Linked DNA regions of Homo sapiens. The protein of the gene in region 3 purifies or fractionates together with the protein of the main gene of each other region. This does not show direct contact. Each region holds a gene or a part of one and is shown on either strand. Other genes may lie near its edges.

What was found. Proteins that work in one complex are often made in the same cells at the same time.
Region 1: the proteins of GGH (region 3) and OS9 purify together in Homo sapiens (affinity purification with mass spectrometry; 3 studies listed by BioGRID and IntAct, with this or other methods). This does not show direct contact.
Region 2: the proteins of GGH (region 3) and CERCAM purify together in Homo sapiens (affinity purification with mass spectrometry; 3 studies listed by BioGRID and IntAct, with this or other methods). This does not show direct contact.

Annotation. Positions count from the first base shown.
Region 1 is NC_000012.12:57,718,084-57,722,057, forward strand, and holds the end of OS9 (protein OS-9 isoform 1 precursor), read left to right. Parts: intron 1-62; coding exon 63-338; intron 339-909; coding exon 910-1,099; intron 1,100-2,015; coding exon 2,016-2,180; intron 2,181-2,322; coding exon 2,323-2,435; intron 2,436-2,700; coding exon 2,701-2,826; 3' UTR 2,827-3,474; downstream 3,475-3,974. UniProt on the Homo sapiens protein: Lectin component of the HRD1 complex, which functions in endoplasmic reticulum (ER) quality control and ER-associated degradation (ERAD).
Region 2 is NC_000009.12:128,423,809-128,430,856, reverse strand, and holds part of CERCAM (inactive glycosyltransferase 25 family member 3 isoform a precursor), read right to left. Parts: intron 6,720-7,048; coding exon 6,585-6,719; intron 6,448-6,584; coding exon 6,243-6,447; intron 2,556-6,242; coding exon 2,436-2,555; intron 2,101-2,435; coding exon 2,024-2,100; intron 1,928-2,023; coding exon 1,821-1,927; intron 1-1,820. UniProt on the Homo sapiens protein: Probable cell adhesion protein involved in leukocyte transmigration across the blood-brain barrier. Does not express any beta-galactosyltransferase activity in vitro.
Region 3 is NC_000008.11:63,028,773-63,035,820, forward strand, and holds part of GGH (gamma-glutamyl hydrolase isoform 1 precursor), read right to left. Parts: intron 6,999-7,048; coding exon 6,884-6,998; intron 1,446-6,883; coding exon 1,395-1,445; intron 1-1,394. UniProt on the Homo sapiens protein: Hydrolyzes the polyglutamate sidechains of pteroylpolyglutamates. Progressively removes gamma-glutamyl residues from pteroylpoly-gamma-glutamate to yield pteroyl-alpha-glutamate (folic acid) and free glutamate.

The sequences.
Region 1 (3,974 bases), on a different chromosome or scaffold from region 3:
CCCCGACCATGTGTCTCTGTTGAAACCCCAACTGTCTTTCTCCCCACTCCCTACCCACCCAGGGGAAGCCAAATATAGGCCAAGAGCAGCCTGTGGATGATGCTGCAGAAGTCCCTCAGAGGGAACCAGAGAAGGAAAGGGGTGATCCAGAACGGCAGAGAGAGATGGAAGAAGAGGAGGATGAGGATGAGGATGAGGATGAAGATGAGGATGAACGGCAGTTACTGGGAGAATTTGAGAAGGAACTGGAAGGGATCCTGCTTCCGTCAGACCGAGACCGGCTCCGTTCGGAGGTGAAGGCTGGCATGGAGCGGGAACTGGAAAACATCATCCAGGAGGCAAGCCCAGCTCTTCCTCCTGTTGCTTCCACAGCCGCCTGGTCCCGTGGAGCAGGACAGGCTGACGGGCTAAAAGAAACAGAGGGCACAGCACAGGGCAAGGACGGGGCACTTGGAAGTGGTAGCTGTTTCCCTAATTAATCGGGGCTGTTGGGGAAGGGGGACCAGAGAGAGGGACAAGACTTAAATATCAGACTCTCTGGCCAGGCGCGGTGGCTCACGCCTGTAATCCCAGCACTTTGGGAGGCCGAGGTGAGCGGATCACCTGAGGTCAGGAGTTCAAGACCAGCCTGGCCAACATGGCGAAACCCTCTCTACTAAAAATGCAAACAAATTGGCCAGGCATGGCAGTGGGTACCTGTAATCCCAGCTCTTTGGAAGGCTGAGGCAAGAGAATCGCTCGAACCCGGGAGGCGGAGGTTGCAGTGAGCCGAGACGGCACCACTGTACTCCAGCCTGGGTGATAAGCAAAACTCCATTTCAAAATATCAGACTCTCCTACAGAGCCCAGCCCGCTGGCTGCCTCCACACCCCAGACCCTTGACTCACTCTCTTCTCTTGGGTATTCCAGACAGAGAAAGAGCTGGACCCAGATGGGCTGAAGAAGGAGTCAGAGCGGGATCGGGCAATGCTGGCTCTCACATCCACTCTCAACAAACTCATCAAAAGACTGGAGGAAAAACAGAGTCCAGAGCTGGTGAAGAAGCACAAGAAAAAGAGGGTTGTCCCCAAAAAGCCTCCCCCATCACCCCAACCTACAGGTGAGAGCAGTCAGACAAGAAAGAGTAGCCCAGTCTGTTGTTTTCATCCCTCAGCTGGTTCTGTTCCCAGAGGGGACCCTGTTCCTTCCCTTCTGAGGGTGCTCATTCTCTCCCCACTTTCTGGAACACTGTCCTCACTTGCGCCTGCTTCCCAACACCATCATCCCTTTGCGTGTTTACCTCCTATTCATCCCTCTGGGAAGCAGCTTTTAGAGCATATCTGCTGGTTTTCTGGTTTGCTCCTGTACACCCAGTGCCTAGCACTCTGCCTGGCACACAATGGATGATCAGTAGCTAGTAATTGAATGCTTGTGAGTCTATATGCTGAAAACCACTTTAGGACTTTGCACCAAGAGAGGCCCCAGCTGTCAGGGCATGAATAGGAGAGCCCAGCTGCACATGAGCCAATAGCTTGGATAGACTTTAAATTATTTCTTCTTCTTGTATCCCCTTGTGTCCATTTCATAGTGTCCTATGGGTGTGGACATCAGATATTCTAAATGGAATGTTCCAGTTTCAAACCTTCCATTCCCACTCTCTCTATAAACATTGAAATGTCTTTAAAGTCCCAACATATGGAGGAGGAGACCACACTTTTCCAACCTGCTTCTTCAAACAGAACTTTGTTGGTGCAGGTGGCCTGATTTTGGCTTTAGAAAACATTTGTTTTCCTATAGGTGACGGGCAGAATTATTGGGTAGGGCGGGAAGATGGAAGGCTGCAATTGGTGGAGGGAGCTCTACAGGCTGAACTGGGAGGGGCGGGGCACACATTTTTTTGAGCCCTGGCTCATATACATGTTGAGATGGAAGAGCTGCCAAAGCCAACTGATGTTTTAGGGGGAGATGACCCCCACACCCCTAACCCTGGAGTCACGCCTCTGCTTTGTGTTTCCCTGTGTGTCTCCCCCTCTAAGAGGAGGATCCTGAGCACAGAGTCCGGGTCCGGGTCACCAAGCTCCGTCTCGGAGGCCCTAATCAGGATCTGACTGTCCTCGAGATGAAACGGGAAAACCCACAGCTGAAACAAATCGAGGGGCTGGTGAAGGAGCTGCTGGAGAGGGAGGGACTCACAGCTGCAGGTGGGCCCTGGAGGGCGGCTGGACCCAGTGCTGTCGGAAGGGCAAGCTGCCGGAAGTGGAGGGGCTGGGACCAGTGGGGCAGGGGGCCTGCCCTGAGGCTCCCAACCATCCTCTCCTCTCACTGCATACTGCTCCTTTCCAGGGAAAATTGAGATCAAAATTGTCCGCCCATGGGCTGAAGGGACTGAAGAGGGTGCACGTTGGCTGACTGATGAGGACACGAGAAACCTCAAGGAGATCTTCTTCAATATCTTGGTAAGAGGCTTCTACCCCCGAGTCCTGGCCCCCAGCCCTCCTGGAGTGGAGGTGCGGGCTTGCCCCAGCCACGCCATTGCTGAGCTTCCATTTCCTGATCTGTAAGACAAGGCTGGGGTTCCAGTGGCTCAGAGTGCTGCCATGCAGGAAGAGCCCCTCAGGACATGGGTGTCCTCATTCCCTGCCTTCCCCCAGCTGCCTGGCCCAGGACTTCCCTGGGCTCAACGGCCAGTAGCTCCAGCCCACCTCTACCCTCTCCCACCAGGTGCCGGGAGCTGAAGAGGCCCAGAAGGAACGCCAGCGGCAGAAAGAGCTGGAGAGCAATTACCGCCGGGTGTGGGGCTCTCCAGGTGGGGAGGGCACAGGGGACCTGGACGAATTTGACTTCTGAGACCAACACTACACTTGACCCTTCACGGAATCCAGACTCTTCCTGGACTGGCTTGCCTCCTCCCCACCTCCCCACCCTGGAACCCCTGAGGGCCAAACAGCAGAGTGGAGCTGAGCTGTGGACCTCTCGGGCAACTCTGTGGGTGTGGGGGCCCTGGGTGAATGCTGCTGCCCCTGCTGGCAGCCACCTTGAGACCTCACCGGGCCTGTGATATTTGCTCTCCTGAACTCTCACTCAATCCTCTTCCTCTCCTCTGTGGCTTTTCCTGTTATTGTCCCCTAATGATAGGATATTCCCTGCTGCCTACCTGGAGATTCAGTAGGATCTTTTGAGTGGAGGTGGGTAGAGAGAGCAAGGAGGGCAGGACACTTAGCAGGCACTGAGCAAGCAGGCCCCCACCTGCCCTTAGTGATGTTTGGAGTCGTTTTACCCTCTTCTATTGAATTGCCTTGGGATTTCCTTCTCCCTTTCCCTGCCCACCCTGTCCCCTACAATTTGTGCTTCTGAGTTGAGGAGCCTTCACCTCTGTTGCTGAGGAAATGGTAGAATGCTGCCTATCACCTCCAGCACAATCCCAGTGAAAAAGGTGTGAAGCACCCACCATGTTCTTGAACAATCAGGTTTCTAAATAAACAACTGGACCATCAATCCATCAACCTTTTTTGTGGGGTGGGGGTTCCAGCAGGGAGAAGGCTCAGTGTTCTTTTCAGATCATGCTCTGATCCTGTTCTTTGCTCCCCATTCCCCAGGTACTATAAACGGGGGCTGGGGTATGCAGGAAGAGACCAGGGTAGCTAAACAAAGCCTGGCCTGGCAAGGATTGAAAGAAACACTTGCAATGCTGTCATCTTCCTTTTCTCATCTGTCTGTTTCTGTTCCTTCCCTTTTGCACCAAGTCTTTCCCTATTGTTTCCCCCTTTATACCCTGAAAGCCAAAATGCACACCATGGAGCTCCCCCCGGCGGGGATCTTCCTTCTGCTGTGGTCTCTCCCATATCATGCTCCAGATTCCATTTGTCATCCACACCCCTACCCACCTGTCCTTTCAACATTTTCCAAAAAGACCTCCACCTTTGGGCATGCGCAGAGAGAGGGCTGCTGCCCACACATGCCAGTTTCTTAGTATGCCCAAGGGTACATGGGCCTGG
Region 2 (7,048 bases), on a different chromosome or scaffold from region 3:
TTTAGTAGAGATGGGGTTTCACCATGTTGGCCAGGCTGGTCTCGAACTCCTGACCTCAGGTGATCCACCCACCTCAGCCTCCCAAAGTGCTGGGATTACAGGCATGAGCCACCACGCCCAGCCACCTCGGGAGTTCTGAGAGGATAACTATTAGGACATGTCCTAATATGATAAGACAGGGGTGACCCTTGAGGAAAGGGTGGGATGGTAGGGGGCTGCCTGAGGGGGAGGCACTCTAGGAAGAATGTGGGAACATGATAGATACTTCTTGGGCAGAGGCCCAAGCAAAGGATGGATAGCCTATGGTCAAGAGACCTCGGGGGATGTGGTGTCTCACACCTGTAATCCCAGTGCTTTGGGAGGCCAAGGTGGGAGGATTGCTTGAGGCCAGGAGTTCAAGACCAGCCTTGGCAACAGAGAAAAACCCCATCTCTCAAAAAAAAAATTTTTTTTGAGACAGAGTCTCACTGTTGTCGGCCCAGGCTGGAGTGCAATGGCACAATCTCGGCTCACTGCAACCTCTGCCTCCTGGGTTCCAGCAGTTCTCCTGACTCAGCCTCCCAAGTAGCTGAGATTACAGGCACCCACTACCACACCTGGCTAATTTTTGTACTTTTAGTAGAGAGGGGGTTTCACCATGTTGGTTGGCCAGGCTGGTCTCGAACTCCTGACCTCAGGTGATCCATCCATAACCTCCCAGAGTGCTGGGATTACAGGCATGAGCCACCGTGCCCAGTCAAAAATTTTTTTTCATTAGGTGGACATGGTGGTGCATGCCTGTAGTCCGTTATTCAGGAGGCTGAGGCAGGACGGTCACTTGAGGCCAGGAGTTCAAGACCAGCCTAGGCAACAGAGTGAGACCCTATCTCTATGAAAAAAAAACAAAACAAAACATTTTTTTTAATCCGGGTGTGGTGATGCAAGCCTGTAATCACAGCTACTTGGGAGGTGAGGGAGGAGAATCACTTAAAACCTGGGAGGCGGATGTTGCAGTGAGCCAAGATTGCGCCACTGCACTCCAGGCCTGGGCGACAGAGCGAGACTCTGCCTCAAAAAAAAAAAAAAATTCTTTTTAATTAGCTGGATGTGATAGTGCACACCTATAGTCCCAGTTACTCAGAAGGCTGAGGTGGGAGGATTACTTGAGCCCAGGAGTTTAAGGCAGCAGTGAGCCATGTTTGTGGCACCGCACTCCAGCCTGGGCAACAGACGGAGGGCAACAGACGGAGACGCTGTCTCTAAAAAAAAAATAAAAAGAGCTGAGTACTTGAAGCAAATGGCAGCCGACATATGGGGCCATAGGACCCCTGGTGGCTGGAGAAGCCTAGCCTCTGGGTTCCTCGGGGGAACATGGCTGGCCTTTCCTAATCCCCACGCATCAGTAGCTCAAGTCCAGGATGGAGAGTAATAATAAGGGAGACACCTAAGCCTTTGGAAACTATGTGCCCGGCCCTGGCTAACTTCACTAAACTCACAAAACCCTAAGAGAAGGGCACAGTTATCTGCTGTTTATACAAACGGGCTGAGAGATGGGGGTAGCTGGCTGGAGGTCACACATTCAGTAACTGGTAGAGCTGGAACCCAGGCCCTGGAGCCTCAGCCACTGTGCTCTCCTCCTCTGGTGAGCAGCAGGAGGGCATCTTCTCCCACGTGTGTCTGCTCCGGAACTCCCTGAGAGGATATTACTCAGACCCTATTTGGATACTACATGGGACAGGAAACTCATTCAACCTGTCTGCTTTTCCCAGTCCTAGCGGGCTAGGAGATGGACCACACTGCTTCCCCAAGCGCACAGGGCCCCCCCCACCAGGCAGGCTCACCAGCCATCCACAGCGTCCACCACCCTCCCAGAGATCTCCATCTCCCAGAGCGAGGCGAGCATGCGTTCCCGACGGTCAGGCCTGCGAGCCAGGCTGATGACAAAGACCTGGAGGAGGCAGGGGGGTGGGCGGTAAGTGCAAGGGAGCGGAAGAGGAGGGCCCATCCACCTCCTAACAGCGAGCCCACAGGCTGGGGGACTTACCTCGTCAAACCCTATCTTGCTGGGCCTCTTAGAGGGCCGAGTCACATGAGCTGAGGCCTGCATGCGGGGGCCGTCCACTGCAAAGGGAAGCACACCCCAAGCACGAGTCCCTACTGACTCCTGTTAGCAGTCACCCTGAAGTCCTAGCCCCCAGCCTCATTCCTGCCCCCTTTGGCAGAACACCCCACAGGACGGGACCTCAGAGATCACAGGATCCACCTGCCCCCATTGTAGGGATGCTAGACTAAGGCCCAACAGGGAAAGGGACTTTCTCAGAGTCATGGAACGAGTTAGGGACAAAGCTGGAACCCCAAGGCCAATGCCCGCTCCGTCCAGGGCCTAGGGAAAGGGGCACCGTGGGGAGGCAGGGAGCCCCGGCAGCAGGTGGGTGGAACAGTTCCCCAGCCCTCACCTAGTGCTTCTAAGATCAGGTGGATGAAGTTGACCCTCTCGTCTTCCAGCCCCTGGTGGGATTTCACCGGCACATTCATGTACCCATAACGGTGCTCATTGCACACGTGGACGGAGACCCCTGCAGAGACAGGCTGAGTGAGAGCTGCAGTGGAGGGTGGGGCTCTCAGAACCCAGCTGAAAGGTCCTAGGCCCAGCACTGCCAGTGACCCAACATGTCAGTCTTCTCTGGGACTCAGTTTCCCCACCTGTGGGACCAGAGGGAGAAAGGGCTTGGCTCACACAATATCTAAGGGGTCTTTCTACTGAAATGGTTCATTCATTCAATATACCTGTCCAGGGCACCCGCTGGGAGCCAGGGTTACGGCAGTGAGCAAGACTGAGTCCCTGCCCTCAGGGCATCAAGGTGAGGCAGGAGCAGACAAACTCCTACCCATCACAGCCACAGGGTGCCAGTGAGCCCCACTGCTCTGTCTCCTAAATCCCCCCACCTCTCCTGATCCCCACCACCCCACCTGGATCCAAGGGCCATCGCCTTTTCCCCACACCCCTCCACTTCACCTCACACCCTCTGGGGCTCCTCTCCACGATGTCTTTCACCTGGCAGCCAGAGTGGCCTTCCCCCGGCTTCAATATTTGTTACCTTTTTTTTTTTTTTGAGATGGAGTCCTGCTCTGTCACCGAGGCTGGAGTGCAATGGTGCGATCTTGGCTCATTACAACCTCTGTCTCCCAGGTTTGAGCAATTCTCCTGCCTCAGCCTCCTGAGTAGCTGGGAATACAGGTGTGCACCACCACATCCAGCTAATTTTTGTATTTTTAGTAGAGACGGAGTTTCGCCATGTTGGCCAGGATGGTCTCGAACTCCTGGCCTGAAGTGATCCACCCACCCTAGGCCATCCAAAGTGCTGGGATTACAGGCGTGAGCCACTGCACCCGGCCAATATTTGTTACCTTTATTATAATTATCCTCAGGGGCAGGCACACAGTGCCAATTAAAAAGCTAACCTAGGCGGGGCACAGTAGCTCACGCCTGTAATCCCAGCACTTTGGGAAGCCCAGGCAGGCAGATCATTTGAGGTCAGGAGTTCAAGACCAGCCTGGCCAACATGGTGAAACCCCATCTCTACTAAAAATACAAAAATTAACCGGCTGTGGTGGTGGCCGCCCGTAATCCCATCTACTTAGGAGGCTGAGGCAGGAGAATCACTTGAACCCGGGAGGCAGAGGTTGCAGTGAGCCAAAATCGCGCCACTGCACTCCAGCCTAGGCGACAGAACAAAGCTCTGTCTTAAAAAAAAACAAACAAAAAACAAATAAAAGCTAACCCTATTCCCAGCATTGAGCACAGAGCCTGGCCCAGAGCCGGGATGTAGTATCTGGCTGTTAGAGACTGAATTCCTTCAAACCATTGACCAATTAACAACGGCTGTCGCTTGAAGTAGGGCTAGCAAATTAAAAATAACAGAATGCTTTTGTTTCCTCTTGTGTTTTCCCCTCCAATTGTTTCACCTTCACTCACTTTTTGCACTTGGTAAGATTTCTTCTTGCATGTCTGCACACTGCAGACTTCTCCAGCACAAAACAAAGAATTACAACATCCTCCTTACCGGCTGCCACTGATTACTTGATTAAATCGTCACCTCTAATTTACCCTGAGCACCTGCAAAGTTCTTCTCCATGCACCAGATAGTCTTCAGGGTCGGAATTACATATTCTCTGCAGCCTTCTCAAGAGCTTCACTCCAACATCAGTGTCTCCACCCCTCCCTCTCATCCTCAGGACTGGATTTTTTTTTTTTTTTAAGACAGAGTCTCGCTCTGTCGCCCAGGCTGGAGTGCAGTGGCGCGATCTCGGCTCACTGCAAGCTCTGCCTCCTGCGTTCACACCATTCTCCTGCCTCAGCCTCCCGAGTAGCTGGGACTATAGGCACCCGCCACCATGCCTGGCTAATTTTTCGTATTTTTAGTAGAGACGGGGTTTCACCGTCTTAAGATGGTCTCAATCTCTTGACCTCGTGATCCACCTGCCTCGGCCTCCCAAAGTGCTTAGATTACAGGCGTGAGCCACCGCACCTGGCCAGGACTGGATTTATTCCATCCAAACCCAAACACTTTCTTACTCTCTGTTTTTTTTCAGACAGGGTCTCATCTTGTGTTGCCCAAGGTGGAGTACAGTGGCATGATCACAGTTTACTGCAGTCTCTACCTCCTGGGCTCAAGCGATCCTCCTGCCTCAGCCTCCCAGGAAGCTGGGACTACAGGCGTGGGCCAACACGCCAAGTTAATTTTTAAATTTTTTTGTAGAGATGGGATCTCGCAGCCGGGGGCGGTGGCTCACGCCTGTAATTGTAGCACTTTGGGAGGCTGCGGGGGCAGATCACTTGAGCCCAGGAGTTCAAGACCAGCCTGGGCAACACGGCAAAACCCCATCTCTACAAAAAATACAAAAATTAGCTGGGCATGGTGGTGTGCACCTGTGGTCCCAGCTACGTGGGAGGCTGAGGTGGGGGAGGTCAACACTGTAGTGAGCTGAGATTGTGCCACTGCACTCTAGCCTGGGAGCCACAGAGCAAGACTCCGTCTCAAAAAAAAAAAAAAAAAAAAAAGGCTGGGCTGGGCTCAGTGGCCCATGCCTGTAATCTCAGCACTTTGGGAGGCTGAGGCGGGCAGATCACCTGAGGTCAGGAGTTCGAGACGAGGCTGACCAACACGGAGAAACCCCGTCTCTACTAAAAACACAAAATTACCCAGGCGTGGCAGTGCATGCCTGTAATCCCAGCTACTCGGGAGGCTGAGGCAGGAGAACTGCTTGAACCCGGAAGGCAGAGGTTGCAGTGAGCCAAGATCACGCCATTGCACTCCAGCCTGGGCAACAAGAGCAAAACTCCATCTCAAAAAAAAAAAAAGGGCAGAAAAGAGATGAGGTCTTGCTATGTTGTCCAGGCTGGTCTCGAACTCCTGAGCTCAAGTGATTTCCCCTCCAGCCTCAGCTTCCCAAGACTTTGAGATTAGGGTCTGAGTCACCTTGCCTGGCCATACCCAAACTCTTTCTAGTAACTTTCATCTTGGCTGGGCGCGGTGGCTCACGCCTGTAATCCCAGCACTTTGGGAGGCCGAGGCGGGCAGATCACGAGGTCAGGAGATCGAGACCATCCTGGTTAACACGGTGAAACCCCATCTCTACTACAAATACAAAAATTAGCCGGGCGTGGTGGTGGGCGCCTGTAGTCCCAGCTACTCGGGAGGCTGAGGCAGGAGAATGGCTTGAACCCGGGAGGCGGAGCTTGCAGTGAGCCAAGATCGGCCACTGCACTCCAGCCTGGGCGACAGAGTGAGACTCTGTCCCAAAAACAACAACAACAACAACAACAAAAAACCTTTCATCTTAAAAGTAACCACTGGCTGGGCGGGTGGCTCACACCTGTAATGCCAGTACTTTGGGAGGCCGAGGCGGGTGGATCACCTGAGCTCAGGAGTTTTGAGACCAGCCTGACCAACATGGCAAAACCCCGTCTCTACTAAAAATACAAAAATTAGCTGGGTGTGGTGGCGGGTGCCTGTAATCCCAGCTACTCGGGAAGCTGAGGCAGGAAATCATTTGAACCCGGGAGGCAGAGTTTGCAGTGAGCCGAGATCACACCAAAAAAAAAAAAAAAGAGAGAGAAAAGAAAACTCATGACCCAAAGTTGTAACTCATGGGTTAACAGGATGAAATGCAGAGTAGGGAAGGGCATGGTAAGCAGCTGGAATAGCATGTGCAAATGTGCAGAGGCCTCCAAGGAATGCTAAAGGAGGGCTGGTCCTCACCAGCAGCCTGGCAGGCATAGGCGAAGACGATGATGTCGTCGAAAGGCCAAGTGTAGTTGGGATGTGGCGGGTAGAAAGCAAGCTGGTCTGCCCCTTCAGCCCGCAGGGATGCAAGGAAGGTGGAGTGGACCATGGGGACACGGAAGCAGCCCCGGCGCTGGCGGTTCTTGGTGGGGAAGTACTCGGCTGTGCGGCGGTAGTAGCCCTGGGGAAAAGGGATGCTTTGGGCTGTGAGAGGGCTCCCCTGCCCCTGCCCACAGACCCCAAGGCCTCAGGCTCTCTGCTCTCCACGTCCCTCCTTCCAGGACCTCAGTCCACCCAAGGCCCCCATCCCGGCCTCACCTGGGGGGTGATCCCACACCAGAAGTTGGAGTAGTAGGTCTGGGAGTCCAGCATTGGGGCCACCACTGGAAGCCCCTGCCCCATGAGAAGCCGCAGAGTCTGATTGTTGGTCAGAATGTTGTCTGTGTCTGCAAACTTTGAGGAGGGGACGTCACAGGCTCCAGCCCTGCCTGGGCTGCAGCCCCCCAAGGAGTTCACTGAGTGGTCCTGCCAGAGACCCAGCGTGGCTCCTAGGATCCAGTGGGAATGCTCTTACAGAGGTCTCACAAACTCAGTACATCTGTTTCTGGACCAAGGCTCTAGTCTGGGGCACTGACTCAGGGACTGGGTCCAGAGATTATACCTGAGTTACTGATCTAAGACCTTTATCTGGGATCTGGCTTAGAAAATGGATCCAAACACCTACTCTGAGCTCTAGTTCAGAGATCCAGGCTCAATTTATACCCTGGGCTCTAGCCCAGAAA
Region 3 (7,048 bases):
TCTGGACAGGCTAGCTCCCCAAAGTATGTATTCCTGTCTACACTGCTACTTGATTCAGATTCCTCTCCAAACAGGAATGCAACTGGGGAGAGGGTGGGAAGAAAATGAAGTGTTTCAAAAGGTCTATTTTTGAGGTTCTACTATTATATTCTAGCCTAGACTTAATGATCTTTGTCCATGCCAAAGTACCTTGCACACAGCACATACTGGGCATTGTAAATGTTTTACTAAATTGAACTGATTTTATGGTAAATATTTACTGAACCAAACTGAACTGAAGGCAAATAATTTTCTAAACATAGCTTTTTAAAAGAAACAATAAATTAACATGGTTTTAGAAGTAAAAATAATAAAGCTCTTTTAAAAAAACATTTTACAGTAAAATACTTCCACCCTATTCCCAATCAGAAACAACTGCCATTAAAATCTGCTGTGTTGATTTGGTAGAAATATGCATATCTCTTCACCCCCACCTTTAACAAAAAGCAAACGGGGTGTATGCTATACACACCATCACGTGCCTTGCCTTTTTCACATAACACTATCACATTGTTCATAGGACAATGGTGATCTAAGTCAGCATCTACAGATAGCCGCATTTTTTAATTCCTGCATAGTATTCTATTGAATGTACATAGTCTGTTTTATTTAACCAATTCTCACCTGATGGATTACGGGGTGACTGTCAGACAATACTACTAATACAATGCATAGATTTGAGTCTAAGTCTTCATGCAAGGTGGGAATATATTTATAAAATAAAATTCCTCCTCAAGTTCCCAGGTCAAAGGGTATACGTGTTTCTAATTTCAATAGGTATTGCAATATTACCCCAAAAAAGACTACCTGATTTACATTCCCTCTAATAAAGTATGAGCACACTTGTTTCCTCACAGGCCCCATAGAGTATAAGCAAATTTTCTGATCTCTGCCAACATGGTAATTAAATGTTTTTGATTGCTGTAATTAGCCTTCTTTCCTAAAATTAAGAGTAATGGTGAATATTTTTTCCCAATTTACCTGAAAAAAAAAATCAACATCCTCAGACTTTGGACTTATAAACCCCATATGCAAGCAGTATGCCACGCCATTCAAGGTAGCTTCAAAACATTTAAGACAAGCATTAAAAGAACAAAGATTAAGTCACACATTTAAAAAAATTATGTGTGTCTACTATGTAACAATTATACATTTCCTAACCTGCCTCTTCCTCTTTTGAAGGACTTTTGCATCTCCCAAGAAAATAAATCCTATAAAAGAACTCAGAACACTAATACTATACCACTCTAAGACAGTTACATAGAAACATGTATAATATTTATATGATTTCTTTTACAAAAGCAGACATATGTAGACCACTCATATACCGTATGAAACCAATGCTGCCAACTTACCCATTAATAGATTTGAAAAGTATTTCATAGTCTTTCTCTGTAAGATCCAGCCTGAAAACAATAAAAGTTATTGTTACATTTGTGAAACTTAGAAGTAAACCTCTAAATGAAGTCTCCACATTTACTTTTAAAAAGCCAAATAAAAACAAATTTTTAATTACTAGACAATATTACCTCTCTACTTTTCTAGAGGCATTTTTGCAAACCACTTGAAAGCCACATCATTCTATCCTTGTTTTGCTAATCAGACAAGTAAATATGTTTTTCTGTGATCTAATGCAATTTAATATTGTGAAGTATGTGTTAGTATGCAAAAACAGTAAAGACCGTGAGATTTGGCCACCAGTAATTTCTCTACTAACCAAGAACTACAAAAAGAAATGTAAGAATATTCAGTAGTTTTATGTAAAGACTCCTTTAAATAACTTTATTTATCATGCCTATTTAACTACAGGAAGCTCTGGCAGATTAAAAAATGCATAAATAAATGCCAAGTCGCTGCCTGATCCCACCCCAACAAACTAGTTGCAACAGTCTAGGGACTACTCTGCATTTCAAAGTCAGGATGGTTCACATCTAGTCTGAACTGAGGACCACAGAGAGATGACTGTAGAACAGCCTAACTGCCCAGGTAATTACTCTGAAAGACCCTTGATCAAACACCCCTTAAGGGCCTCCTAACAATCGCCATGTTATTGGTGACTTTATTCCCTTTCTCCAGAAAAAAAAGATGGGCTTAATCTGTGACATATGGTGACAACATTTACTAAGTCACAGATATCTGCTCTCCCGAAAGTTCAATAAAATGCAACAATAAGGGAAGAGAGCACCAAGTTAGTGAAATCCTTGCAAGAACTCTCCCACATTTAGCAGCCTTCTGTTTCTGTGACAGAATAAATGGTACCTGTCCTCTCAACCTGCCCTAAAAGAAGTAGACTTATGATTAGATGTCAACTAGTCCATTTCTGCCCTCAAAGAAGTTTTAGGGGGAGGTAAAGTCCCTCACACCCATTATTAACTAGACACCTGTGATATCCAGAACACAGGCTGTGTTTTGCCAGCAAACAACTCTGGGATCTACTCTAAGTCCAAACAAGCTTTGCAAGTCCAGGTCTCTCACAAGTTCATAGTAATCTCTTCCTGGCGAGAGCCACAAAGCAATGGGTGATACCAGAATGGTGCTTACCATTCTTAAGTGGAGAAAATACTGACAGGTAGCCCTGCCTTGGGAAGTGATAGGGAGGTGAAATATCAATATACATGTACCCAGTATTCTGCCAGTCTAATCTCCCCAGATTGTGGCAACAAAAAGGAACCAGCCAGTCAGGACCCAGAATTCTCCCCATGGATATTTAAACCAAAATGGGCAACCATCGCCATCAGGGACCAAAATGGATTTAGATCACACAGCTGCACTCCAAGGATTCCTGCCAGCTAGCGGTGCAAGCTAGTTTCAGTCATTTCATTAATTCTAAATAAATGGCTCCCACACTGTCCATGACTATAGTTTTGGTCCCCATTTATCTCTATTAAGAGACCTAATTGTCACAGGGGAAGGAGTGTGCCATGTCACAACTCTGGTGCCTAGGGGCCCTGGCAGAGAATACAGCTGTTAGTTGCATGTTGTCAGACATTTTTTGAAACAAAAGTCCCTTTCAACAAGGTATGAGGAACAGTTTACTCTCTCCTTAACTGTAACGAAATGGCTTAAGCCTGGTGATGATGGCAAATGACACACAGCTTTAGCAGCATGAAAAGGATGGTAAGGCATTGTTGCCAATGGGGAGTGTTTGCCCCATTTAAAACTCAATCTAGATAACTGTCTTCAAAAGAAACAAAAATTCAGACTCTTATAAAGTTTGATTTGTGGTCTTTGGGGTTTTTTTGAGAAAGGTCTGGCTCTGTCACCCAGGCTGGAGTGCAGTAGCGCCATCTCAGCTCACTGTAACCTCCACCTCCTGGGCTCAAGTGATCCTCCCACCTCAGCCTCCTGAGTAGCTGGGCCCATAGGTGCACGCCACCACTCCCAGCTCATTTTTTAAAAATTTTTTATAGATAGGGGTTTTTCCATGTTGCCCAAGCTGGTCTCAAACTCATGAACTTAAGCGATCTTCCCACCTCAGCCTCCCAAAGTGCTGGGATAATAGACGTGAGCCACCGCGCCCAGCCTGATTCATGTTTTAAAACGCTGTGTGAACAAAACACGTTTTTAAACCAAAAGCAGCAGTCCATGGGCTCCTGTATGCTACCTCTGAGGAAGCAGGACATTCTCTTTTCCACTAGTCCCACATTGGGCATTTATGACAACCTGAGAGCACCAAGCGCCTGAGACAGAAGGGGCAGAAAGAAGGCAGAAGGAAACCAAAGACAAATTTCTGCATCTATTTCAGAATGCTTCCCAGGTCTCCCATCTCTTCCTTTTCACTTCTAAACCACAGAAGTTGACTCCCAGCATCCAAAATTCAGAAATGAACCTAACATCATCATGATCCAGTCTTATTTTGCATCAGGTAATCCTTCACAGGCTAGTCTATGAACTCACCCCATATGTATTACACTGTTTCTACAAGATCACATGATTCCAATATACCTTAAGTGAACTCTGAGAACCCAATTTGGAAATAAACCTGTATGCTGACAGTCGTGTTCTCAGCATCTCTCATAAATACCAATATTCTGCAAAGTCATCCACTTTCAAAACTCCCATGATTTCAAAACTTCCATCATCCTTATATATTTCTTCCTCCCTGTGCCCTTTTATTAGTCATCATGTACTGGTGATTTTTTTAAACAACACTTACCTATCATTCCCACACCACCAGTGTAAGCCAAGCCCTCAACACTTCACACCTAGACTACTGCAACTACCTCTAAACTGGTCTACCTGCCTTTAGGCATTTTGTTTTATTTTTTTAAAGACTTTATTTTTTAGAGTAATTTCAGGTTCACAGCAAAATTAAGAGAAGGTTAAGTATTTCCTTTATAACCCCTGCCCCAAAACATGTATAGCTTCCTCCATTAACATCTTGGGTGGTACACTGTAACAGTTGATAAAAATACACTGACACATCATAATTGCCCAAGACCTAGTTTACACTGGGGTTCATTCTTGGAATTGTACTGTCTTCAATTTTTTGGATGAGTTTGAGAAGGACTGGTATCAATTCTGCTTTAGATGTTTGGTAGAATTCACCAGTGAAGCCAGCTGGTCTTGGGCTTTTCTGTGTTGAGAGGCTCTTGATTACCATTTCAATCTCTCCACCAGTGACAGGTTTGTTACCTATTTCTTTATGATTCAGTCTTGGTAGACTGTGTGTTTCTAACAATTTATTCATTTCTTCTAGGTTACACATGTTGTTGGCATATAGTTTAAGTAGTCTTTTATGAACCTTTTTATTTCTGTAGCATTAGTTGTAATGTCTCCTCTTTCAGTTATGATTTTACTTCATTTATTTTTTATAATTTTAACTTTTATTTTAGATTCAGAGGGTACATGTGCAGATTTGCTACATGGGTATATTGTGTGATGCTGAGGTTTGGGGTACAAATGATCCTGTCACCCAGGTAGTGAGCACAGTATCCAATAGGTAGTTTTTCAGCCCTTATTGCCCTCCTCCTCTAGTAGCCGCCAGCATCTATTGCTGCCATCTTTGGGTCCATGTGTACCCAATGTTTAGCTCCCACTTATAAGTGAGAATATGTGGTATTTGGTTTTCTGTTTCTGCATTAATTCACTTGGGCCTCCAGCTGCATTCACATTGCAGCAAAGGATATGATTTCATTCTTTTTTATGGCTGCTCTGCCTTTTGTCTCTCCTTATATATATATATATATGTCTCTCCTTATATATATATATAATATATATAAAAATATATATATATTTTTATATATATCTCCCATCCACACGGTCAGCACTAACATCCCAGAAGAACAGCTTGCATTAAAAAGTTTCCCTGATGAAAACTTTGAAACACTGTTCTGAAGACTCTCTGGAGCCTCTTCCTCAGCTCTAAAACTCTGGCGTTATATGGGCTTCAAATAAAATTTCGTTTGAAAAATTAGATAGGCTACTAAAATATTAAAGACTAATATCAAAAGCAAATGGCAATCTTGGTGTAGAAACAGTTAATTTAAATGTAAAAGATCATACAAGAAGACAATTCTTATAAATCTAAACCTAAAGCCATTTTGTGGTACAATTCTCTAAATTGTAATATTTGCATTTTATTAGTAGTATTATATTTGAACAGTATTTTTGTTATAATTTTTGATGAGGAATTGTTTGCAAAAACAGGCTGTACAGAATAAATAGTGTTTTATGTGTGAAATCACTCAAAATGGATTAGATGAGGTGCTCAAAGATTCTAAAATACATTAATTTTAGCTGACAAGACATTACAAATCCTTATAAGATTCTGGTTGTTAGCTCCTTCCAGATGAAAAATATGGGAAGAATTCAGTTCTAAATGAAAATGAGATGAATCATTTTATTCTTATAGGAACATTTTATCACAAAAATAATGCAGTGCCTTTAAAACTGCAATACCTATAATCCACACTGAAGCAACCCTAATGCACTGGTAATTTACAAACTTTTAAAGTAGAGTGTGAAGGTATTTTAAAAGTCATCTTCTAAAAACCTCCTTCATTCCCTAACTGTTCTCTTATCCTAATATTATAGAACAAAGCTGGTTAAATTGTAGATTCATTAAAATTTTTTTCTTATTTCAATAGCCTTTGGGGTAAAAATGGTTTTTGGTTACATGCATGAACTGTATAGTGATGAAGTCTGAGATTTCAATGAACCAGCCACCCGAGCAATGTACACTGTACCCAATATGTAATTTTTTATCCCTCACCCCGCCCCCCCAACCACTTTAGATTATTTTACTCCATTACCTTCATAGTGTCTGTGAGAACCACCTTTTCTGGGATAAAGGAAACTATCATTTCATTCTTGATGTTAATGCATATGACATATGGTACCTCTAATGACGTTACAGGTAACACACAGCTTCCCACATTAAACAATTCAATGAGAGACTCTAAGCAACATGTTTGTGTCAAAAATCAGGTGCAATGTTACTGCATTTAAACAATGTAATCATAAGAGAGAAAGCACGAATTTTAGAGATATTAGGCAGTAATTATTATTTTGAGATGGAGTCTCGATCTGTTGCCCAAACTGGAGTGCAGTGGTGCGATCTCAACTCACTGCAACCTCCACCTCCCTGGTTCAAGCGATTCTCCTGCCTCAGCCTCCCCAGTAGCTGGGATTACAGGAGTGCACTACTGCACCCAGCTAATTTTTGTATTTTTAGTAGAGACAGGGCTTCACCAGGTTGGCCTGGCTGGTCTCGAACTCCTGACCTCAGTAGTCCACCCGCCTTGGCCTCCCAAAGTGCTAGAATTACAGGCATGAGGCACCGCACCCGTACGCAGCAATTTTTTATACAGAGTAAAAAAAAAAAAAAAACACTGAATCATACCTTACTGGTACAACTCTCGCACCTGCAGACTCCAAGTACTTTACATAGGACGCAGCAATATAGTATCTTCCATAGTTTTTCATGACTTTATTACGGCATTTTTGCATTAATATTCCTAATAACAAAAAAAAGTTTAGTTTCAAGCAAATTCCTTTTCTTCTTGCT